Linked DNA regions of Homo sapiens. The protein of the gene in region 3 purifies or fractionates together with the protein of the main gene of each other region. This does not show direct contact. Each region holds a gene or a part of one and is shown on either strand. Other genes may lie near its edges. The genes, in order: ALDH3A2, ACADM, USP50, MTHFD1L, SLC25A13, IPO5 and ABCE1.

Region 1 (2,673 bases), on a different chromosome or scaffold from region 3:
ACTGAACTTTTTCTTCTAGTAGTGACATGATATAAATAAGGGCACAAAACAAGTAGGAACAGAGCACAGCAAAGTCATCATGGAAGCAATTCCAGACTCTATGCCACTGTTTGCCCAAGTGTGGTCCATGGTTAACAGGTATTAAGGTAAACGGCTCCGCGGTCAAGGAAGTCTGGGAGCTGCACACACTAGCACTTCAGAGGTTCCAAATGACCTGGGTCCTTTAGTTTGCTGATGTGCTTTACAAGCCAGTGGTATACAGGACTGGTGGCAGGACCATTTTTTTGTGTAAAATCTTGCGGGATTAGTGTTCTACAAATATGCTTACAGAAACACTTGTTCTAGATCAGCAACTGGGGGTAGGAGGATGCCACTGGAAAAACCTATTTACTATAGCTACTAACCACCACCCCCAACACACACAGCAGAACATAAAGTTTGAGAAAATCTTCTCAGCTAAGAATTTTAAAATGAGAAAAAAAAAGTTGACAAATACCATCTATGATAAAGACATAAAATGATTTATAGTTGGGGAGAATTTATGATCAAAGGATTGTCTCCAATAGGGTATATCTGAGGTTCCATACCAGGAGCGTCATTAAAATTGATGCCAATTTTATGAAATATGTTCATTTTGAAGCAGATGTGTATTAGTAGACAAGCCAATAATTTAAACATACTCAATGAAAATTCCATAGTGCAATTTTATCTAAGGTATTTTATGATTACTCTCTTAGAGCCACAGTTTTAAGCAGCTTTTTCCTAAACTAGGCTCGTTATTAATTTTCAACACTTCATACTATGATGAAGACATCACATACTTTAGACAGCCTTAATAGAACAAATTATTCAACAAAGTTGATTATACGTTCTATAAAGTAAATCACATTCTCTCATTGAGTGAGCTGAGTCTTTTTGAGTGTGGGGACAGAGTCCCTGCAGTCAGGAGCTCCAAGGCATAGAACTGCCTGCCCTGCTCTGTCCAGCAGGTAATGCTGCATTCCACAGGCCTCTTCTTCAGCCTTGCCCACTCAGCAGAGTACCTCAGGTTGTGACCATGAACGACTGATGAGAGTAACTTCTGACTTGCTCAGGGGATCCTCTTGCCATCAATTCCCTTCAGTATGACCAACCGCAGTGGCTTACTCGCTTCTTGTCCAGACCATCCACCATCTGTCTGCCCCATGATGCTCTCAAACCCCAAAGTCCTAATATCCCAGGCCTCTTTGTCTGTGAGAGGAAATGGTTCCCTCACTTTAAGTTCTGTAGGCTAATCAGAAAGGGATCTCTCTATAGTTTCAAAAAGTGAAATTTTACTTGCACTACAGAAATAAGAAACTTACAGATTTGTCCTTGAAGACCTACTAACCTGCAACTTTAGGGTCCTGAAAGAGGATTAGTATGTTTATAAGTACTTTTATTACAGTATTTTTTATTTGTTTCGGAGACAGGGTCTTGCTCTGTTGCCCAAGCTGAAGTGCAGTGGTGCAATCACAGCCTGCTGCAGCCTTGGCCTCGCAGGCTCAATCAATCCTCCTGCTTCAGCCTCCTAAGCAGCTGGGAACACAGGCTCATGCCACCACATCTAGCTAATTTTTATTTTTTGATAGAGATGAGGTCTCACTGTGTTGTCCAGGCTGGTCTCAAATTCCTGGACTCAAGCAATCCTCCCACCTCGGCCTCCCAAAGTGCTGGGATTACAGGCATGAGCCACCACGCCCGGCCACAGTATTTTTTAAATGCCAGTTAGGTTTTATAAGATGTAGAATTCTATAACTCCAACACAAGAATGACAGGTGATGCTTGCATGACTTTGGCAACTAACTTCCAGGAAGCCCTAGGATTTACAAGATGCTTTGAGTGACATTAGTCACAAGAGATTGTTGCAACTAAACAGAACACAGGATGATAAAGAATGAATGAGGAAGAATGAAGACCACTGGTGAGATGGCACTTCTGACCAGGGGCCTACTCCTGGAGGTCAAGTCCTTGAGTCCCATTGGAGGAGGAGTAACCCCTCCCTTCCCCACATAGAGTTTTAGTGCCTGAAACCTCACAGGGAACCAAGAAGATCTAATCTCACCTCTCTGGACTACAGAGGACTGCCGGTAGCCCTGGGAAGTACCAAGCTCTTGAAAGCTTCACACAGTGATGGTGGCAGCAGAGGCAGGAAGTGAGCAGTGCCATTAACTGGAGTGAAGGATTCAGTGAGGTTCTGAGACTCCCTTACAACCCCGCAGTTTGTATTTAGTCTAATACATTCTCCTCCCCTAGCTCAAAGTTCCAAGATTTAGATAAGCACAATTTAAGACAGGTTCCCTGAATACCCTATTAGGGAATGTTGGGACGTAGTTGAAATGGCAACTTTTATTAATGATGAATGGCAATGACTTTTAAGTTTGATCACAGAGTGTTTGCATATTTTCTTACTATTTTTGGTATGATTTAAAAATTATTGGTTCATTAACCATTTAAAAGAGGAATAATTCAGTAGAGGCACTAGGAGGTTGAACAGGATCATTCTTCAGTAATATTCTGCCTGGAGAGAGGAAAAAAGGATTCAGTTTACTCAGCTGCTTTAAAAACCTACCCACAACCAGCCTTGCAACACAAGCTCAGCACTGGGACTCAGACACCTCCTGTCTGAAGAGACTCTACATGCATTGTACAAAA
Region 2 (3,500 bases), on a different chromosome or scaffold from region 3:
TAAGTGTAGAATAAGGAAATTGACTATAAAGGGAGAACAAGGTAACTTTTTGGGGTTCTAAAGTACTCTGTATCTTGAGCATGGTGGTGGTTACACACATATACATTTGTCAGAGCTATTAGAAATGTATACATAAAAATGGTGACTTTTCTACATGTAAATTATACCTCAGTAAACCTAATTTTAACAGAGTCAAAGGAAAACAAAATCAATTTTTATTCAGTAGATTATTTTACTAGCTCTATTAAGATTAAAGGTCTCAAATCAGATTGTGTTTACTAAATGTTTTTTCTGACATGGTAAAATAGATAGCTTTCAAACATATAATGAGATTTGTCTTTGTTGATAAGATGTACTTGTAGACCTTTAGACTAGTGTTGGTTTCAAAATTTGTGAAACATTGTTTTAGATTATGGTTGGCAAATTTTTTTGTAAAGATCCAAATTATAAATATTTCAGGCTTTGCAGGCCATATCTCTGTCACAACTACTCAGTTCTGCCATTGTAGCAAGAAAGTAACTGTAGATGATATATGAACAAATAGGCGTGACTGTATTCCAATCAGGCTTTCTTTGCAAAACAGGCATTGCAGACTACAGTTTGTTGATCCCTGTTTTAGGTAATTGCAGAAAGTCATGAAACAGTGATTAAAGCAAAAATTGATGCTGGCTCAAAAAAAATTCCTTAAAATATATCAATTTTCTTATTAGGAATTAAACATGGGCCAGCGATGTTCAGATACTAGAGGAATTGTCTTCGAAGATGTGAAAGTGCCTAAAGAAAATGTTTTAATTGGTGACGGAGCTGGTTTCAAAGTTGCAATGGGAGCTTTTGATAAAACCAGACCTGTAGTAAGTAATATGGGTTCATAATCTTTATAGGATCTTTTATTTATTACATTAAATAAGTATTTTTACTTTAAAATTGTATGTTCAGTGTGTTTCTCTTTTTAATATCTGCTTATTTTATTAAGGATATAGGAAAAATACTGTTACTTTTCTTTCTTTTTTTTTTTTTTTTTTTGAGACAGAGTCTCACTCTGTCACCAGGATGGAGTGCAGTGGTGCAATCTCAGCTCATTGCAACCTTCACGTCCTGGGTTCAAGAGATTCTCCTGCCTTAGCCTCATGAGTAGCTGGGACTACAGGTGCACACCACTCTGCCCAGCTAATTTTTGTATTTTTAGTAGAGATGGGGTTTCATGATGTTGGCCAGGATGGTCTCGATCTCTTGACCTCGTGATCTGCCTACCTCGGCCTCCCAAAGTGCTGGGATTACAGGCGTGAGCCACCGCGCCTGACCATATTGTTACTTTTCTTAATTTTTTAAATAATTCTTCAAGTTTTCTTACTATACATTATAGAAATTATTTTAGCAACTGCAAAATTACTGTAGTTGGTGCTAGATTTAGAGAGGCAGTCCACCCTAAATATGATCATCCTGTTAATATGTACTCATTTTCTGTTTTTACTCATTAAGAACATTTCCCCTAGTAAGATTTCTCTTGTTAAACAAAAGCAATGACTTTTTTCTAGAGTATGATACTATGCCTAACAAATGCCTCTTACTACCTTTAATTAACAAATAATATAAACTTACGTGCCTATTCCCTGTTCCCCACCAGTTTCTTGTTGCTGTACATCACCTTCTCTTTGTACACTCCCTAACATAGACACTTAGGCAGATATTGTGTGTTTTAAAGATAACATGAACTTTTGCTTTATAATATCTTAAAATACTAGGTAGCTGCTGGTGCTGTTGGATTAGCACAAAGAGCTTTGGATGAAGCTACCAAGTATGCCCTGGAAAGGAAAACTTTCGGAAAGCTACTTGTAGAGGTAATTTTAATACTGCTTGCTTTGTTCAAATGTAAAGACACTCATTTTCATTTAATATTTAGAAATGATTTTTAAACCACAAACTAATCAATTTCTACTTTGATAGCAAGAAGATAATGTGGTTTTATCAAGATGAGTTTCAAAGACATTTCTTTTTAGAGTGTGCCACTATTGGTTACTTCTGAACCTGACACTGTGCTATGCATTTTTTTTTTTTTTTGAGATGGAGTCTCGCTCTGTTGCTCAGGCTAGAGTGCAGTGGCACAATCTCGGTTCACCACAGTCTCCGCCTCCCGAGTTCGAGTAATTCTCCTGCCTCAGCCTCCCAAGTAGTGGGAACTACAGGTGCGCACCACTATGCCTGGCTAATTTTTGTATTTTTAGTAGAGATGGGGTTTCACTATGTTGGCCAGGCTGGTCTCGATCTGCCCGCCTCAGCCTCCCATAGTGCTGGGATTACAGGCATGAGCCACTGGGCCCGGCCTTGTGCTATGCATTTTAAATATATTTTCTAGCCGGGCGCGGTGGATCACGCCTGTAATCCCAGCACTTTGGGAGGCTGAGGCGGGCGGATCATGAGGTCAGGAGATCAAGACCATCCTGGCTAACACGGTGAAACCCCGTCTCTACTAAAAATACAAAAATTAGCCGAGCATGGTGGTGGGCGCCTGTAGTCCCAGCTACTCGGGAGGCTGAGGCAGGAGGATGGCGTGAACCCAGGAGGCAGAGCTTGCAGTGAGCCAAGATCACGCCACTGCACTCCAGCCTGGGCGACAGAGTGAGACTCCGTCTCAAAAAAGAAAATATATATATATTTTCTGATTCTCTCAGTAACCCTTTTTTGGGTGGTGTTATCTCTTTTAAGGATCAAGAAACTGAAGCTCAGAGGTATTAAATGATTTGTCCAAGGCCACACAATTTATAAGTCACAGATCCAGGATCCTTGCTTTTTTTTTTTTGCGGGGGGTGGGAGACAAAGTCTTGCTCTGTCGTCCAAGCTGAAGTACAGTGGCATGATCTGGGCTCACTGAAACCCCCACCTCCTGTGTTCAAGTGATTCTCCTGCCTCAGCCTCCCGAGTCGCTGGGACTACAGGCACACACCACCACACCCAGCAAATTTTGATATTTTTAGTAGAGATGGGGTTCCCTTATGTTGGCCAGGCTGGTGTTGAACTCCTGGCCTCAAGTGATCTGCCTGCCTCGGCCTCCCAAAGTGCTAGGATTACAGGCCTGAACCACTGCGCCTGGCCTATGTTATACTCTTAATTCTTGTTACTTCCCATGTCCTCTTGAGTATCAGATAATTTTAGTACTATAAAGAGTCGTGTCTTCCATGAATTTCCAGGGTAATTCTTAACTCTTACCCCTTTAAATATTGATGCTCCCCCATTATCTGTATTCTTTCCTGCAACTCACTATGAGTTGTATAGTGAACCTCCTATTTCTCTTTTTTTTTTTTTTTGAGACAGGGTCTTGGTTGCCCAAATGCGAGTGCAATGGTGCAGTCATGGCTTATTGCAGCCTCTTGGGATCAAGCAATCCTCCCACCTCAGCCTCCTAAATAACTGGAACTATAGGGGCACACTACCATGCCTGCCTAATTTTTTTATTTTTGTAGAGATGAGGTCTCACTATGTTGCCCAGACTGGTCTCAAACACC
Region 3 (3,500 bases):
CTTGTTTGCTCCTTATTGCTGGCTGTCTTCTACTGCCACCCACCCCATGCCCACATCCCCAGTTACAGATTAACTTTTGGCGTTGTGGTGAAGAAAATTTGAGAGGTAAACCAAGGCACTAGATTCCATTCTCTCTTTCCAAAACATTTCACAACTTTAGTCCAAAATATAAGAGCTCAAGTCTAAGAGTCTAGAATGTTTTATATCTAGTTCCCAATCTGGGCCTTACAGACCTCTGGGGTAAGGGAGGGTCATAAACTTTTTGCAAGAAATTATAAATTTCTTTTATGCACAAATCTACCTCAATAGACTCAATAAACCCCACTATATTTCCAATTTTACAGTCAGGCTATTTCGTTGAGTACATTTAAAAATATGATTGAATTCCTAGGAACTTTTGGCCAGTATGTCCCTATAAAAAAAAATACTGTCATCATGGACTTCCTCTTTCTTTTATTTATTTATTTACTTATTTGAGACAGAGACTCACTCTGTCACCCAGGCTGGGGTGCAGTAGTGCGATCTTGGCTCACAACAACCTCCGCCTCCCAGGTTCAAGCGATTCTTATGGCTCAGTCTCCCAAATAGCTGGGATTACAGGTGCCCGCCACCATGTCCAACTAATTTTTGTATTTTTAGTAGAGACAGGGTTTCACCATGTTGGCCAGGCTGGTCTTGAGCTCCTGACCTCAGGTGATCCGCCTGCCTTGGCTTTCAAAAGTGCTCGGATTACAGGCATGAGCCACCGCACTCAGTCTATTTTTTTTTAAATTAAAGTTATAAAGCCGTCTCTCATACTAAACAAATGTAGGAAACAGCCCCGAGAAAATCCGGGGCTGAGAGTATAGCGAGACAAAGTGTCCAGGAATACTGCATTCCTACCCGAAGGGAGCATTCATATTTGGATGGAATGGGGAGTGAGAAGACAGTGAAGACTTCGTTCTTGTAGGTGCATTTCTCACACTTTAAACATACGATGCTATAATTGAGCTGCTCTTCAAACAGCTGGGTGATGATGGATGTCTCAGTGGTAATCCACTTCCTGCAGCATCTCTGAGTAGATCCTTTCTCATATGATCTTCTCCGGGAGTAGTGGTACTGAATCAAGGAGCAAATTTCACCCAAATTAATTATTGGTTATTTAAAAAAGACTGTGGCAACATGGTGAGATCCCATCTCTACAAAAAAAACAAAAAATTAGCTAGGCATGGTGGCACACATCTGTGGTGCCAGCTACTTGGGAGGTTGAGGTTGGAGGATCAGTTGAGCCTAGGAGTTTGAGACTGCAGTGAGCCGTGTTAGCACTACTGCACTCCAGCCTGGGTGACAGAGTGAGACCATGTTTCCAAAAAAAAAGGAAAAGTTTTCAATAAAATGACTGATTTTTTTTTCTATCAGAATGAGACATTGCTACCAGAAACCACTTAGTTTTGGATTCAGACAATAGAGTAAGATATCCTTGAAAGTATATATATCATGTGTGATTTCTGATAATTCAGATATTTTCCCGTTAGATGAAACAGAGGAATGATGACAGTCTAACTCTGGTAAAACATATACCCATGGCCCCATAAGCTACCAGCCTTGGGAGCTAGTTTTTTCTGGAAGGGGGTAAGTAAGCTAAATTAGCATTAGTTCACTCAAGCAGATCTAAAGGTAAAATATTAAGAAATCCAATCTTTCCTGTCTCCAGTCCCTTCAGGTTACATTCTGCAGCCTTTACTCCTTTAACTTCTAGAAAACACTTTTTTAAAAGAGCAAATCTTGGCCAGGCATGGTGGCTAACATCTGTAATCGTCGTGCTTTGGGAGGCTGAGGCGGGAGGAGTTTGAGATCAGATTGGGAAACATAACAAAATCCTGTCTCTACAAGGTTAATTAAAAAAAAAAAAAAAAGATAAGAGAGCAAATCTTAAATTTCTAAGGCAGCCTGGTGGAACTAGCCTTGTGGCCTGGTTTGGATCCAGCTCATACTCAGCAACAGCATTTCTGGGGCACACCCTGAATTTTCAGTGATTTAAGAGCCTCAGTGGAATATACATTTTGAAGATGTGTTAGCTCCACAGCTGGCTCTAATTTGGGGCTGTGCTCAGCATTCCATTTTTGCTTGCTCCTTTCATCACACTCTGCTGCCAAAGTCTTCCACCCTGACAGTAACTTAATTCCCCTAATTCCTACTTTGATCTTGGGAAACAGAATGCTGTTTGTTTCAGATTGGCTGTAGAAGAGGACATAAGTGATTTTTACTGCCCACTCACCTCTTTTCTTAAAAAAGTGCTGCCATGAATATGTTTTTGTTTTTTTTTTTCCTTTTCATTTTTTTTTTTTTTTTTTTTTCTTGGAGACGGAGTCTTGCTCTGTCGTCCAGGCTGGAGTGCAGTGGCATGATCTCGGCTCACTGCAACCTCCGCCTCCTGAGTTTAAGCGATTCTTGTGCCTCAGCCACCCGAGTAGCTGGGACTGCAGGCTCCTGCCACCACGCCTGGCTGATTTTTGTATTTTTAGTAGAGACGGGGTTTCACCGTGTTAGCCAGGATGGTCTTGAACTCCTGACCTCAAGTGATCCACCCACCTCAGCCTCCTAAAGTGCTAGGATTACAGACGCGAACCACAGCGCCTGGCCATGAGTACTTTTTTATTACTCTAAATGAAAAATGGAACTGAGATCTGCCAATGAGAACAATTAATAGCTATAGTTTGCAACCTTTATGCTAACCATTCCCTGGGTATTAGAGGTGCAGTGAGGTAATGTTAGCAGAAGGATGTTGCATAAAGTCAAGGACACATTTTCAGAGAATGTGGGTCTCAGACCAAGGCTAAGGGCAGTGAGTTTTGTAAATAAAGGCAAAACCTCTAGAGTAACTGATGATTTCATGTTTAATGAAATGTATGTCCTAATTCGGTGATGAACTCAGGTTAGGTATGTTTGGTATGAGGATGAAACTTTGTAGTGCGTAGATCTGTTGCTTAATCTAATATCAAGCTTAATATTTTCATGGATTTGTAGGTCCCAAGAAAATTTAAGCTATAAAGTTCTATATGTTATTTCTCATGAGGAATATATTTTGCACTTTTAAAAACTAGTCCATTCAGCCTCTATTTACAAAGAAAAGTAGATTAGTGTTTCCAAAGCCTAGCTGACCACTGGAAATGCCAAGTAAGCTTTCCCAAAAGACATTCTAATTAATTACCCTTGGAGTATTTGCCTTAAAATCTGTGTTGTAAAATCTTCCCAGATGATTCTGATGACAAGTAAGTTTGGTAAATACAGCTACACATTCAAATACTAACTTGGATGTTCTCCATGGGACACCTAGCACAGTGCTTGGCACAAAGTAGACAATATTAATTGAACAAGTAAAAGAATGAAAAATGGAAGCTGCTGATAAAGGTTCAGGACTATCCTATTTCAAGGTCATTAACTCTACTTACCTTTTTTAGAGCTTCATGAAGTTCATTTAGGACACAAATCAAGAATTCCTGAGCATCTTGTTGCATCTT
Region 4 (3,500 bases), on a different chromosome or scaffold from region 3:
GATCTTACCTGAACATCATACAGGAACTGGAATCGGCTTCTTTTACTCGCAGCCTCTCTCACAGCCCGAGCCAAGTCCACCGATCCTTTTCCACCAACGGACCAGTGATAGCAGGGGACTGCATCAAAGGCACCAGCCCGCTTTGCAAGCTCACACACCAAGTCAATCTCAGCGCGGGTGTCGGTCCTAGTGAAGAAAATGTTTGTGGTTTTGCATCTGTATCCATTTAGCTATGTTTTCAAAGAAAGACTCACCATTTATACAGAACTTCGCTCCCTAACACTGAATACATTTTAAACATCAAAAGTGGTCACATCGTGTTTAAATAAATCAGACTTAAAGCATGGAAAAAAAAAGTCCTCTCTAAAGTGACTCAAATATTTCAAGTCGTTAAGGGTGTTATCAAGAAAATTCCATAACATATCCCTTTGATCATTCACAGTTTGTTTCAGACAAAAATGCTGGGTAGAATTAAAAAAAAAAAAAAAAAAAAAAGCCAAGGAGATAGTAACTCACTATATATAAATTTCACTTCCTTAATAACATTGTGAGAACACATTTGCTAAAATGAAACCAAACCAAATAAACAAACAGAAAGAACTGGGTATTTCTGTATACTTTTAGATGAAGCACAGAAAGACCAAATACCCCAAGACACAAATATCGTTCACAGGGTGGCCTAGTGATAATGCCCACATTTAAAGGAGGAGGCTGGACTTACTTGAAGACATTCAGAGCCACCACAACGGGAACCCCAAAGAGCTGAGTGATCTGAATTTGCTTCTGGAGGTTACAGCAGCCGTCTGCCACCAGCTGGATGTTCTGTAAAAAAGAAAAAAGCAAAACCCAGACCCCTGTGTATTGTCTCCCACCAAACCTGCCAAGCTAAACTGCCAGCACCTCTCTGGCAGGATTTGCTACATCTTTTTTCACTTTTTCCTCCAAGAAAGATGGCTGCAAGAATAAAGAGGTTCGTCTTCAAAATAATTTCTAAAATGATTCTGGATCCAATGGCATATGGGTGGGTCTGAAGCCTGGCAGCTCACCCTGCTGAGGACAGGCTGCAGGGTCTATGCAATGCGCCCATGCTCTGCAGGTTGAGGCCTGACAGGCACAAGGCCCCAGGTGGGTGAGGAGCTCTGACCAGGTATTCCTGGCTCAGATCCCTGGCGCCACCTGTAGGAGCTAAGAGGTACTGCTGCCAGCAAATCAAAGTCTATTTACAGAAAAGAGTAAGCCACTCCTGTAAATCATAAAGCCAACTGTATATAGACCTTCCATGACAAAAGAATACAGAAGTGTAAGCTTCATATTTGTTTCTGACCTGGAGACCTTGAGTTCCTGCTCTGATGGCTACCCTGGGAGTACACAATAGTAGACAAAGCCTATATCCATCTTTTCTTGATATTTAAGAGTTAACTGAATGAATTTTATCCTTTCATCCCATCCATTTCCTCTCGGATTCTTAGAACGGCACTTTTCTTTTCTTTTTTTTGAGACAGAGTCTCACTCTGTCGTCCAGGCTGGAGTACAGTGGTGCGATCGCAGCTCACTGCAACCTCTGCCTCCCAGGTTCAAGCGATTCTCATGCTGGGACTACAGGCGTGAGCCACCATGCCCAGCTAATTTTTGTATTTTTAGTAGAGATGAGGTTTTGCCATGTTGGCCATGGGTTTTGCCTGGCTGGTCTTGAACTCCTGGCCTCATGTGATCCGGTCGCCTTGGCCTCCCAAAGTGCTGAAATTACAGGTGTGAGTCACTGCGCCCGGACAGAACAGCACTTTTCTAAGAGGCCACTGAAGGAGGGCTCATTCACTGAAAGCCAACGAGTCACTGGATTTAAGAGATTCTTCACATAAGCATCTAAACAGCTCCTCTTACCTCCTCTGTATATTCTTTCTTAAGAGGAACACCAGCCGTTACCTGAAATAAGGAGAGAAAACATGAAGAATAATCCTATAAAAATGCTTACACAACCGATCTGAAAGAAAGAACAACATAATCACATTCAATTTTTAGAAATGTACCTCTATGTTTTGTGCTTTTAAAACAGTAGCTGGCAGCACTGGCTAAACCTAAACTCCTGCGGGAAGCTTTTAGAAAACACTGATCCCTGGGCTCCACCCAGACCAATGAAAGCAGAAGTTCTGGGAGGGGAACCTGGGATCAGTAATGTTTAAAATCTCCCTGGATGATTCTAATTTGAGCCAATGGAACAGTATGAAACTTCTCAAACATTGGTTCAAATTAGAACATAAAACTAATAATATGTTTAATACTTGATTTATACAGAGTACATCACCATTCGAAATCATTTTACGGTAATTGCCATAAAGTTCTGTTGTCCAGGCTGGAGGGCAGTGGCACAATCACAGCTCACTGCGGTCTCAAACTCCTGGGCTCAAGTGATCCTCCTGCCTCAGCCTCCCCAGTAGCTAGGAATACAGGTGTGTACCACCACACCCAGATAATTTTTTATTATTTTGTAGAGACGAGGTCTTGCTATCTTCCCCAGGCTGGTCTCGAACTCTTGGGCTCAAGCAGTCCTCCCACCTCGGCCTCTCAAAGTGCTGGCATTACAGGGTGAAACACTGTGCCTGGCCTTGTGGTTAATCTTATGTGTCAACTTTGCTGGGGCCATAGGGTGTCCAGTATTTGTTCAAACATTATTTTGCGTGTTTCTGTGAGGGTGTCTATGATGAAATTGATATGGAAATCAGCAGCCTCTGAGTAGGCAAGTTGTCCTACATAATGTGGGTGGGTCTCAACTGACCAGTCAAAGGCCTTTTTGAGTACAACAAAAAGACTGGCCTCCCCTGAGAGCAGGAGAATTCTCCAGCAGACTGCTGCCTTCAGACTGCATTAGCACCACTGCCTCTCCTGGGTCTTCAGCTTGCCAGCCCACAGTGCAGATTTTGGACTTGCCAGCTTCTGTAATCATGTGACCCAATTCCTTACAATAAATATCTTTCTCTATATATACACACATCCTTATTGGTTCTATGTGTGAAGAATGCTGATTCATACAATGGTTAGTTTAAAGATCTAATTGTGAAAGAATCTGTGGATCCCAAAGCATAGCACAATATTAGTTATTGGATTGCACTGGGAATGGCCGAGCACTCTGGGGGACAGGATGTGAGTTTAAAATGACTGAGGGCAAATTTAAAATGGGCAAATTCAAGGGCCACAAGATTTTCCACTGTACAAATTATGGAAAAAAAACAAGCTGAATAAACATAAGAGGCAGCCATGGTTATTTGTGTAATGATCAAAAGGAAGTCGATCCCAGCGCAGTATTTGTAGCAAAAAAGAAAAAAGAAAACAGAAGTAGAAATGAATAATCATGGTTCAAAAATACAGAGCTATTCAATATGAAGGAAGGACACCGAGATGAGCACTATGGAATAGAGGATTAAGAGGATGAAAGTTCATTTATCTTGCCATTATTGAAAACACTCCCTGCATATAGACCATGCCAGACACTTGGACCATACCAA
Region 5 (3,500 bases), on a different chromosome or scaffold from region 3:
GGAATTTATGTTAACACAATGATCTTTACTCTTTCCTTCCTCAGTCCTGTCCCCTTTTACCAGGAGAGTCCTAGAAATGGAGTCCCAGAAACATTTGTTATTGGTCCAAATTCCCATGAATGCCTTTGCTTTTGGCACTGCTCTAGGCCAGTGATTCCCTACATACTGAAGTCTTCTGGACTGGTATAAAAAACTGCTGATGCCTGGGTCTCCCTCCAGAGATCATGATTGAATTGGACTTGGGTGTGGCCTGAGCCTCAGGATTTTTGAAAGCTTGACAACCACTGTTATTTTGGTGCACATTGCTTCAAGAGACCTGCTGGCTCCTTCTTGGAGTAAGAATGGAATGCAGTGAGATTAAGTTAAAGTCCCTGGTGTGTCAGTTCAAAGGAGGGGTATGTAGGGGTTTCTCCAAATTTCTCTTCTTTCTTGACAGCTTTGTCTTAGTCCTGCCTGGTGTCTCCAGGGTGCTTAGGCATCAAGTTTATACAGTTTTGTGATAATCCTGGAATAGAGGTTTTAATCCCAAACTTGACTGAAAGCTCCATTTGTCTCCTGCAGAGTCTCAGTGGTTTTTTGTGATCAGAGAAGGTGCTGGAGGAGGGAAGCATTACAAAGAGCAAACCTGGTCTCAGAGCCCTCTCCTGGGCTAACCTCATCCAGGGCCATGTGGTGCCAGTGTTCCCTGGCTTAGGTCATATGGCTTCACAGCAAATAGAGGGTTGGAAAGGTGTGGGGAGAGTTGAAAGGTGATATGTAGCGTAAAAAAGTCAGGGAGCAGGTCTTTTTTGGATATTGAGTTCTTTTAGAAGATTGTCCGAGGAGCTCTGACTCCTCTGTGCTTTGGTCTCTTAGACCTTTAGTCCCATGACCAGTCTCTGCTTTTGATGAATTCTTAGAGGGAACCATTCCTCCCTTTGTTCTCCACTATGTGTGAGGATTATCTATTATGGCATTCCTGCTGAGCGCTTCCTCCTCTCTGGTTGGCATTTGCTGCCTCATAAACACCTACAGATTTCCTCATAAGACTCTGTGGGTTTGCCTTAGGGTGGACCTTGCAACAGAGGAATGTGTGACGCTGAGACATGTGTTGGTTCTGCTTGGAGGTAAGGAGGGGGATATGCCTTTGTGTAGTGATACAATTCCTTTAGCAAAGTATTTAACAGCTACTGAGCAAACTCTATTTTCATGGCCTGTTTAACCAGACAGACCCTCTAATTGGGTGAAATGAACTAAATTAAATGTCCTTCTCCTAAAAGTCACCAGTAACCTCAGTTCTAAACCTGTTGGCTTGTCCTCATTTCTGGCCTCACATGACCCTGTGTCCTACCCTTTCTTTCTCGCCATCTGCTTTCATGATGTCCCCTCTCATTATTGGCCTCTAGCATCTCATATTACCCCTTTATTCTCCTTTGCAGGCTTCTTCTTCTTCTTCCTTCTTCTTCGTCCTTCATCCTTTCTCCTCCTTCCTTCCTCCTTCTTCCTCCTCCTTCTCCTTCCTTCTTCTTTCTTCTTTCGTCTTCTTTCTTCCCAGCAAAGATATATTTTTATTTTAGTGTTTAGCAGCATGACATATGCATATAGAATGATAGTACACTTTACCCTAATCTTCAAAACAGAATGTACTAGTTTACCAATGAGGAATTTTGGCCAAAAATGTAGTGTTTTTCCCTTCCCTGTACAGGTCAGGTATATGTAGGTCCAGCACTAATGCTGCACCTTTTGAGAAGCATTACTTTAGCAAAAATCTAGAAATCTTTCACTTTTTCTGAATCTAACAAAGGGTCTTACTTTCTTTTTTTTTAAATGTACATTTTAAAAAATAATTTCAACTTTTATTTTAGATTCCGGAGGTACATGTACAGATTTGTTACCTGGATATATTGCATGATGCTGAGGCTTGGGGTACAGTTGACCCCATCACCCAGGTACTGAGCATAGTACCCAATAATTAGTTTTTCAACCCTTGTTCCCCTCCCTCCTCCCTCTAGTAGTCCCCAGTGTCTATTGTTGCCATCTTTATGTCCATGAGTACCCATTGTTTAGCTCCCACTTATAAGTGAGAACATGTGATATTTGGTTTTCTGTTCCTGCATTAATTCACTTAGGATCATAGCCTCCAGCTGCATCCATGTTGTTGCAAAGGACATGATTTTGTTCTTTTTATATCTGCAAGGTATTCCACGGTGGATATATACCACATTTTCTTTATGCAATTCACCATTGATGGGCACCTAGGTTGGTTTCCTGTCTTTGCTACTGTGAATAGTGCTGTGCCTTGTGGGCTTCTCTTCATTCTGCCTGGACACCTGGAAGGTTAGTGTCCCCCAAGGCTGTGCCTGAGATTGTCTCCTCCCTCCAGTTCCTGCCGCACTACCTGCCCCCTTAATGGGTATTGGCTCCTTAACACTCCTCAGCCTGGGTGGCTGTCTCAAGCTCTAGCCCTGCACTTTTAGCTGTTTAGTTTGAGCTGGAAGACTCAACTTGTCTGTCTCAAAGATATTTCAAACTCTGCTGACCTAGAACTCACCAGTTCTTATAACTGAATCCATCTTTTTGGTCATTCCTGACTTCATCCTGCAGCTTCACTTTCCTGATAAAGTTTCTAGTTAGTTCAATTAAGTACCTGTTATGGGCAGATAGGAGAGACACCATCAGCCTGAATTGGATGTGGCAAAAGAGGTGGATCAGTGAAACCCTTCTACGGCCATGGAGCATGTATGTCCTATCTTCTCTGTTCAAATTCAGGGCCTCTTTATTTTGTAGCTGTACCATTGCTGTAGCTCCCACTGATCCCCTTGCTTTTGATCTCATCCCTACACCTTCCTCTCCATTCTGTCCAGACTGCCAAAGGACTTTTCTAAGATTGGCTCTTGTTGCCATGATAATAGCACTACCGTGTTCATGGGTACAGTACTTAGCAGCTTTAAAAAGTGCATTCAAGGGCATAAGTGACGACGACTGTTTGTCAGTGCCTACACTGTGCTGGGATTCCAAAAACAGGTAAGCTACTAGATTTGTTTTCAAGAAGCTCAAAGTCTTCAGGGATTAATATAACCAGATAATATAAAGACCCAAGCTTCATTATTTGATCTTTATAATCATCTACAAGGTAGCAGGGAACGTGTTGATAACCTCATTTGTCAGATAAAGAAACCTAAGGCTCAAAAAGGTTATGCAAATAATAATAATAATATTAGCATATGTTTATATAACACTTGTAAAAGCCGGACACTGTTCCAAGCACTTTATATCTACTAATGCAATCTTCATAACAATCCTATGACATGTAAGTGCTCTCACCTTCATAATATACATCGAGAAACTCATTTGTACAGAGTAGTTAAGTTCTTTGAGGTACAGAGAGATTACATAACTTGCCCAAGATCACATGGCTTGTAAATAGGAGAGCTATGATTTCAACACAGGCAGCCTGGCTCCAGAGCCCAAGCACATAACCAGTGTGCTGCATTGCCCTCTTTAATTTATCTTGCTATGCA
Region 6 (3,500 bases), on a different chromosome or scaffold from region 3:
TCTCTCATCAAACCACCTAGGACTGTCAAGCATACTTCATTGTGTGTTTAGAGTCCAGCATCTCATATGTGGCCACTTGGTGGGCCAGTGCTACCGTGTAGGTAGTACCAGCTTCCTGAAGGTGCCCACATGCTTGTAGGCCCAAATTGCCACTAACAGCGAGACCCCATTCTCCCCACCATCCACCCCGAAATGAGGATTATTCTGCTGAAAACAAAGTAAAAATAGTGAAAACACCTTTGTTTCAGAATGTAGAAATTAGAGATAATTTTTCAACCCATCTATTTTAAGTATGTTCCAAGGAAAATCTTTGCAATAAATACAGTTCTTGCCACACACCTTTGTCTTTCGAGGTAAGACTGGCCTTTGATTAGTAAGAGACATGATAACCCACACTTGAGGGTTACTCCGGTCTCTAGACTCTTGATTTACCCTTAAAACAGGAATGAGAAATTGATTTTCTGCATTTTTTAAGGTTTTTATAAATGTTACTATTGATAATAGAAAATATACTTTTTAATCCATATGAGTGTTTATGTGTATGTTTTTTTTAGGATGATAATGATGTTTATATTCTGACCAAAGTGTCAGATATTTTACACTCAATATTCAGTAGCTACAAAGAAAAGGTGTTACCATGGTTTGAACAGCTGCTTCCATTAATTGTCAACCTCATTGTAAGTGTTACCTCTCTTAATAGTTGTTTTGCGTAGTTTACCTGGAATTCTTTTCACTGCAACGTAAAATCTAATGCTTGAAGTTAAAATGGGTCTCAGAAATGATTGTTTCCATTGTACATCTTTGATTTTATCAAGTTGACTGCATTACCCTGGATATTTTCTCATTCATTATATGCTTGAAGATTCCTAACTTGGTTTTCCATAGGCCAATTCAGTTCTAACACATCTGAAAGATATATAAGTGATTTTTTTTATTATTTCAGATTATCTGTGCCCTCCTAAATTAATAAAAGGAAACAGAATGGTTACTTCTTTTTTAGTGGACCATAGATAATTCAATTATCTTTGTTATGTACTACCAGCAATCATGGATTATGGATAATGGGCATATATATATATATATGTATTTTTTTTTTACCTTCTCTCACCCTTATATTTGATTTTTTTAAAATGTTTTATAGACTTCTTTTTGTTTGTTTGTTTGTTTGTTTTTCTCAAGATGGAGTCTTGCTCTGTCGCCCAGGCTGGAGTGCAGTGGTGCAATCTCGGCTCACTGCAACCTCCGCCTTCTGGGTTCAAGCAATTCAGACGCACGCCACCACACCCGACGAATTTTTTGTATTTTAGTAGAGATGGGGTTTCACCATGTTGACCAGGCTGGTCTCCAACTCCTGACCTAGTGATCCACCCGCCTCGGCCTCCCAAAGTGCTGGGATTACAGGCATGAGCCACTGCGCCCAGGCCTACGCTTCCTATTTTAAAGCAGTTTTAGATTCACAACCAAATTGAACAGGAGGTACAGAGATTTCCCATGTGCCTCTGCCCCTGTGCGTGCATGGCCTCAGCACCATTAACACCCCCCATCACAGTAGTAGATACATGTGTTTCTGTTATGGACCTACATCAACACATCATATAATGGCCTATGTGTATTCAGTTTTTTTGTTTGTTTTGTTTTTTTGTATTTTTAGTTGTGTTTTTTTGTTGGGTTTTTAGTAGAGATGGGGTTTCACCATATCGGCCAGACTGGTCTCAACCTCCTGACCTTGTGATCCGCCCACTTTGGCCTCCTAAAGTGCTGGGATTACAGGCGTGAGCCACCTCGCCTGGCTGTGTATTCGGTTTTTAAAAAATATATTATAAATTAGCAGCTATCATCAGATGTTTGGAATTTTTCTTTTTGGCTTTCAATTTTGCATTTTATTGTATTAAGTAGTGCAGTACATTTTTTAAAAGATTCGGGCACACATGACTTAGCCTGTTGAATAAATGCTATAAGTTAAGATCTTTGCAGCTTTTATTATTATTGTATTTTTTTAATGTAGCATTACCATTGTCTTTTTTACAAAGTAAATTTATATACAATGCTTCCACTGTCAGTTCTTCTGTGTGATAGTGTCAGATTGTAGAGTTCTGTAACAAATCATACAAGTCTTTGAAACCTAAATTTTATTAAATCTGTGTATTTGATTGAATATCGTTGGTCACAAGAAGTGGTTGTTACTATGTTTTCTTTTTTCTTTTGCCTGTATGAGGAATATCAATGTAAGCAGATAGTCTATAGTGAATATTTCTTTACATTCTTTGTGTACACCAGTATTTGAAGCTTAAAAGAGAATTTCTTTTGTAGTGTCCACATAGACCATGGCCAGACAGACAATGGGGATTATGCATCTTTGATGATGTCATAGAACACTGTAGTCCAGCCTCATTTAAATACGCAGAATATTTCTTAAGACCAATGCTCCAATATGTATGTGACAACAGCCCAGAAGTCAGGCAAGCAGCTGCATATGGCCTGGGAGTCATGGCACAGTACGGTGGAGATAATTATCGCCCTTTTTGTACAGGTACGTTTGCTTATTCCGTTACGTGCATTTCATTCCAGACATCCTGTGAATCCCTACTTTACTCTCTTTACCACACTCCCAAACATTATTTGCCTATTTCTGCTGTAGTCTGTTTTCAGACATCTCATCTGTAGCATTTAGGATTTTAGATGATAAAAAGATGATTTATTCTCATAGAAATAGAATCAAAGACATCCCCTGCCCCCAGCCTTCCAGGGTGCATTTCTCTTTGCGTTTTGGCAATATACAACAGCCTTAGAATAGGACTTTTTTTTTTTTCTTTAATTGAGGCCCAGGCTGGAGTGCAGTGGCATGATCTCGGCTCACTGCAACCTCCGCCTCCCGGGTTCGAGCAATTCTGCTTCAGCCTCCTGAGTAGCTGGGACTACAGGCGCATGCCACCACGCCTGGCTAATTTTTTCTATTTTTAGTAGAGATGGGGTTTCACCATGTTAGCCAGGATGGTCTCGATCTCCTGACCTCGTGATCGGCCCACCTCAGCCTCCCAAAGTGCTGAGATTACAGGCGTGAGCCACCACACCTGGCAGAATAGGACTTTTAAAACTTACTGGGGAATATAGTTAGGCAGCTTTTAAAGTTTAAGGACCCTCGGGTGATGTGATGAGTACTGTAAATCTGGAGGCCACTAATCTCTCTGGGTCTCTAAGTTAGTAGAGGGCTAGTGCTCCTGTCCATGCTGGGGCAGTCCCCCCTCTGTTGCCATTCTGTAATGACATAGCCAAGAAGACAACACTTCCCATACACTTTAACATTTCTTTACCATAATCAATATCTGAACCAAATACAAAAATACATATATTCATTTGCATGAAAATGTGAGGTTTTAGCTGAACTTCTTTCAAATGCTTATTTTAGAAGCACTTCCCCTGCTGGTAAGAGTTATTCAGTCTGCGGATTCTAAGACCAAAGAAAATGTCAATGCTACAGAGAACTGCATCTCAGCAGTAGG
Region 7 (3,500 bases), on a different chromosome or scaffold from region 3:
GCTCCCTCACACTGGCTGTTTAAGGAAACATAGGATTTTAAGAGTAGAGAAGTATTCCATGTAATGGATTAGTGCCAACAAAGACACCGATGCAAGATGAGTATCACCAGCTCACCTGGGTGATTTGCCATTTTTATTGATAATTACCACCATTGTGGTAGAAAACATTTCCTTTTAATTTTCCCTTTTCATCTTAGACCTGCTCTTATTTTCCAATTTTCCATTGTTACTTTTTTTTTCTTGCCAGATTACTCCTGAAATGTTTTCTCATTTCATTCCCTTACTCTAGAATTGTGCTGTAGCCTCTAGACAAACATCCTTATTTAAATTTTAATTGAAATTAAAATTTTATTTCATCAAACTAGCAACATTCAACTTATGGCTAGTAGTCACTATATGGGACAACATAGAGATAGAACATTTTCATAATTGTAGAAAGTTCTGGACAGTGCTATTTCAGAACCTACTACTATCTTCCTCATTTCCAATTAGTTCATACTCTTCATTTTGTCATTCAACAACTTTTTTAGGTGTCTGTTAGTACACAGTGTAAGACTAAAGATCACAGAGGTGCTAAAATGTATTAAGAGTCTCCCTTAAGATGTTTATGAGCAAGTTATGGGGTAATCAAAAATAATAAAAGTCCAAGTATCAGTCCAAATACTTGTTACCAGTATTCAAGAGTGAGGGGGAAAGCTCATTTGCATATTAGGAAAAGTATTCCCATAGCAAGTTGGATTTGAGATGGACCTTAAAGGGTTAGGTGGGATTTCAGCAGGTAAAGATCTAGGCAGGAGACTACTTAGAAAAAGAATAGCTTCCTAGACACCAGAGAAGTAGAGAAGTGGTTTATTTAAGAAAAAAGATGCATTCTTCAGTGTTTCCTGTGTATGAGCTAATAGAAAGATAGTAACTAAAGTTTTAGAAAGTGTTGAAAGTCTAAGTCTAATTAATTTAAGTGATTAATTTCATTTGGAATTGAGACCCACATCAGGGGACCTAAAGAAAATGAGATATGAAAGAAATACGAGGGCCTGAACTAGAATTTAGGCAAAGAAGAAAAAGGGTGAGATTGAAACACAAGACATTGTTGAGAAGGAATTCACAGACTTTAACAGTTTAAACAAAATATCAGTGGGAATAAAATGTCATTTTTGAGGGAATGATAATTTCGTTAATACAAATATGGAGAATTTTTATTTGTGTAGGAAGCTGATACATTAATTTGACATATGAGATGTTTGCAGGACATTTTTTTAACATGTTGAATGGTGTTCGATATGGAAATGGGAATAAAGTGCTACATAAAACCTTCATGACTATTACTTGCGTCTAAAACTTCTATTCCAGCCAATACTGTATCACTTCATTCAAATATAGCCACTTAAGCTTCACATCATATCCCATTCTCATTCATAAAGTGCTCCAGTACCCACTAACCTATTTTCTTTCTGATGTTCACTGATTTTATTATCTGTGGAGCATATTTTGCCATGTAATCTTTTTTTGTTACCATTTCATACCTATTCCTTGTCTTCCCCAGCTAAATGGAAACGTCTCAGGTTAAGGATTCTGTCCTATCTTTGTGTATGCGTCCATCCCCTACTACAGCTAGCATGGGACAGGACAGGTACAGGGCTTAATACATAAATTGAGTAGCATAATAAACAGTTTAGGCTACATCTGAATTAAATCTATTATAATTACTTTGTAACACTTATTTCGAAATATGTTTCTTATTAGCAGAATGCATTTAATTCATATATCAATAAACTTTTAAATTGGCTGATTTTTTCCTTTTAGTTCAGGAAAACATTTTTAAATATGAGCATTGATAATGAGCCTTACTAAAAATGTTTTATGGCTTTTGCTTCTTATGTCTTTATGCTTAAATTTTATTAGATGTATCTCTTTTTCTGAAATTTCCAACTATTAAAAATAGTTATGTAAGAGTTTTAACTAAAATCTGGTTTGATTTTCAGATATATCATTGTGGTGGAACATGATCTAAGTGTATTAGACTATCTCTCCGACTTCATCTGCTGTTTATATGGTGTACCAAGCGCCTATGGAGTTGTCACTATGCCTTTTAGTGTAAGAGAAGGTAACTTGAAAAACTTTTTTCACATATGCTGTATTCTCTTCTACTCTAATGCTTATAAACTACATTATTGATATTAAGTAGTTTTACATTGGTCTGATATCATCCAAAACTCTAGTTCCTTGGAATTTAATCACTGAGCATATAAGGTTATATATATCAGTTGTTATACAAAATATATTTTTTTCATTTTGGAGAATTTTCTCCTGGGGATGGGTAGAAATGCAATGTTACTTTTGTTGGGGGTTGGGAGGCTACAGTAAAAGTCCTCTGCATTTTGGCTTCTGCAGTATTACTGTAGTATTTGTCATTTTCAAATTAACTTTGACAGGCCAATACCAGTAATGAAACTCTTAAAATGCTTTCAGTGTTCATCTTGTTTTCATGTTTTAAATTTATCTGTAATATGTATACTATGTTTTTGGAACTAAGGCTATCTAAAAACCTAATAAGATAGTTTAGTAAGTGTATTAAAATTTTCATTTAGTCTTTGTACTTCCAAGAAAATGAGATTCCCTGGCCTCTCCCTTCCATGTCTCCTCCTTACCTGTGTAATTTAAGCAAAAATAGAAACTAGCGTACCACTAAGTGGCTCCTTAAAAAAAAGTACCAATGTACTCTCTGCCTTCAATACCTTTTTCCTTTTTTTCTTCCCATTTTCCTTTCACTGCTTCCTTACTTGTGTCTTATTTTTATTTTTCTCTCCACCTGTCTTAAACTGACAATTCAGAACACTAAAAGGGCTGTTTACTCAGGAAAAAAATACCATCTCCTAGAAGTAGAAAAATTCATGTAGCCTGTAGTTCCCTAAGAGGTGACAGGTTTTTTGGTTTCTTTCTTTCTTTTTTTTTTTTTTAATCTTGGAGGAATCTTTTTTATACCTAAAAGCTCTTTTGGAAAAATAAATTTATATTGCATTATAATCCTTTTCATAAAAAGATATTGGGAGTTTTTATAATTTATAAAAAGTACATAAATATTAAGATGTGGGGAAGAAATGGTTGTAACTTACCTACTTATACATTTGAGATAGATGCATACTTTAAAGAAAAATTTGCAGTTACCTAGTTTTCTTGCCAGTAGTCTTAAGGGATGACATCAGAACAAATTTATTAATGTTTTATTCTTGTCAATTAACAAATATGTATTGAGTACCTTACTCTATACCATATGGTAGTCTTTGAATCAAGTTGATAATAATATGGGTACTCGGCAGTCATTCTTCACAACTCCAGTTATAAATGTCATGTCTAAAGGCTGTGCCATTCAGTAAATGGTACCCAGTAAGGTTTTTAATGTGCTCGATCTATTAAAACAGCTTAAGAAACTTTAGTTTTTCTCTGTTCCTTTAATATATTGAAATCAGTGCAGCATACTTAAAAGCTTTCTATAAACTGTA

The links.
Region 1: the proteins of USP50 (region 3) and ALDH3A2 purify together in Homo sapiens (affinity purification with mass spectrometry; one large-scale study listed by BioGRID and IntAct). This does not show direct contact.
Region 2: the proteins of USP50 (region 3) and ACADM purify together in Homo sapiens (affinity purification with mass spectrometry; one large-scale study listed by BioGRID and IntAct). This does not show direct contact.
Region 4: the proteins of USP50 (region 3) and MTHFD1L purify together in Homo sapiens (affinity purification with mass spectrometry; one large-scale study listed by BioGRID and IntAct). This does not show direct contact.
Region 5: the proteins of USP50 (region 3) and SLC25A13 purify together in Homo sapiens (affinity purification with mass spectrometry; one large-scale study listed by BioGRID and IntAct). This does not show direct contact.
Region 6: the proteins of USP50 (region 3) and IPO5 purify together in Homo sapiens (affinity purification with mass spectrometry; one large-scale study listed by BioGRID and IntAct). This does not show direct contact.
Region 7: the proteins of USP50 (region 3) and ABCE1 purify together in Homo sapiens (affinity purification with mass spectrometry; one large-scale study listed by BioGRID and IntAct). This does not show direct contact.

The regions. Positions count from the first base shown.
Region 1 is NC_000017.11:19,675,424-19,678,096, reverse strand, and holds the end of ALDH3A2 (aldehyde dehydrogenase family 3 member A2), read right to left. Parts: intron 2,540-2,673; coding exon 2,525-2,539; coding exon of another isoform or gene 2,472-2,524; 3' UTR 501-2,471; downstream 1-500.
Region 2 is NC_000001.11:75,748,709-75,752,208, forward strand, and holds part of ACADM (medium-chain specific acyl-CoA dehydrogenase, mitochondrial isoform a precursor), read left to right. Parts: intron 1-710; coding exon 711-851; intron 852-1,742; coding exon 1,743-1,838; intron 1,839-3,500. UniProt on the Homo sapiens protein: Medium-chain specific acyl-CoA dehydrogenase is one of the acyl-CoA dehydrogenases that catalyze the first step of mitochondrial fatty acid beta-oxidation, an aerobic process breaking down fatty acids into acetyl-CoA and allowing the production of energy from fats.
Region 3 is NC_000015.10:50,540,167-50,543,666, forward strand, and holds part of USP50 (ubiquitin carboxyl-terminal hydrolase 50), read right to left. Parts: coding exon 3,432-3,500; intron 1,099-3,431; coding exon 883-1,098; intron 1-882. UniProt on the Homo sapiens protein: Deubiquitinating enzyme that removes conjugated ubiquitin from specific proteins to regulate different cellular processes. Regulates the inflammasome signaling pathway by deubiquitinating 'Lys-63'-linked polyubiquitination of the PYCARD/ASC adapter protein.
Region 4 is NC_000006.12:151,012,202-151,015,701, reverse strand, and holds part of MTHFD1L (monofunctional C1-tetrahydrofolate synthase, mitochondrial isoform 2 precursor), read right to left. Parts: intron 1,924-3,500; coding exon 1,882-1,923; intron 823-1,881; coding exon 722-822; intron 187-721; coding exon 9-186; intron 1-8. UniProt on the Homo sapiens protein: May provide the missing metabolic reaction required to link the mitochondria and the cytoplasm in the mammalian model of one-carbon folate metabolism complementing thus the enzymatic activities of MTHFD2.
Region 5 is NC_000007.14:96,312,099-96,315,598, reverse strand, and holds part of SLC25A13 (electrogenic aspartate/glutamate antiporter SLC25A13, mitochondrial), read left to right. Parts: intron 1-3,500. UniProt on the Homo sapiens protein: Mitochondrial electrogenic aspartate/glutamate antiporter that favors efflux of aspartate and entry of glutamate and proton within the mitochondria as part of the malate-aspartate shuttle.
Region 6 is NC_000013.11:98,016,175-98,019,674, forward strand, and holds part of IPO5 (importin-5), read left to right. Parts: intron 1-554; coding exon 555-677; intron 678-2,310; coding exon 2,311-2,530; intron 2,531-3,406; coding exon 3,407-3,500. UniProt on the Homo sapiens protein: Functions in nuclear protein import as nuclear transport receptor. Serves as receptor for nuclear localization signals (NLS) in cargo substrates.
Region 7 is NC_000004.12:145,115,311-145,118,810, forward strand, and holds part of ABCE1 (ATP-binding cassette sub-family E member 1), read left to right. Parts: intron 1-1,982; coding exon 1,983-2,104; intron 2,105-3,500. UniProt on the Homo sapiens protein: Nucleoside-triphosphatase (NTPase) involved in ribosome recycling by mediating ribosome disassembly. Able to hydrolyze ATP, GTP, UTP and CTP. Splits ribosomes into free 60S subunits and tRNA- and mRNA-bound 40S subunits.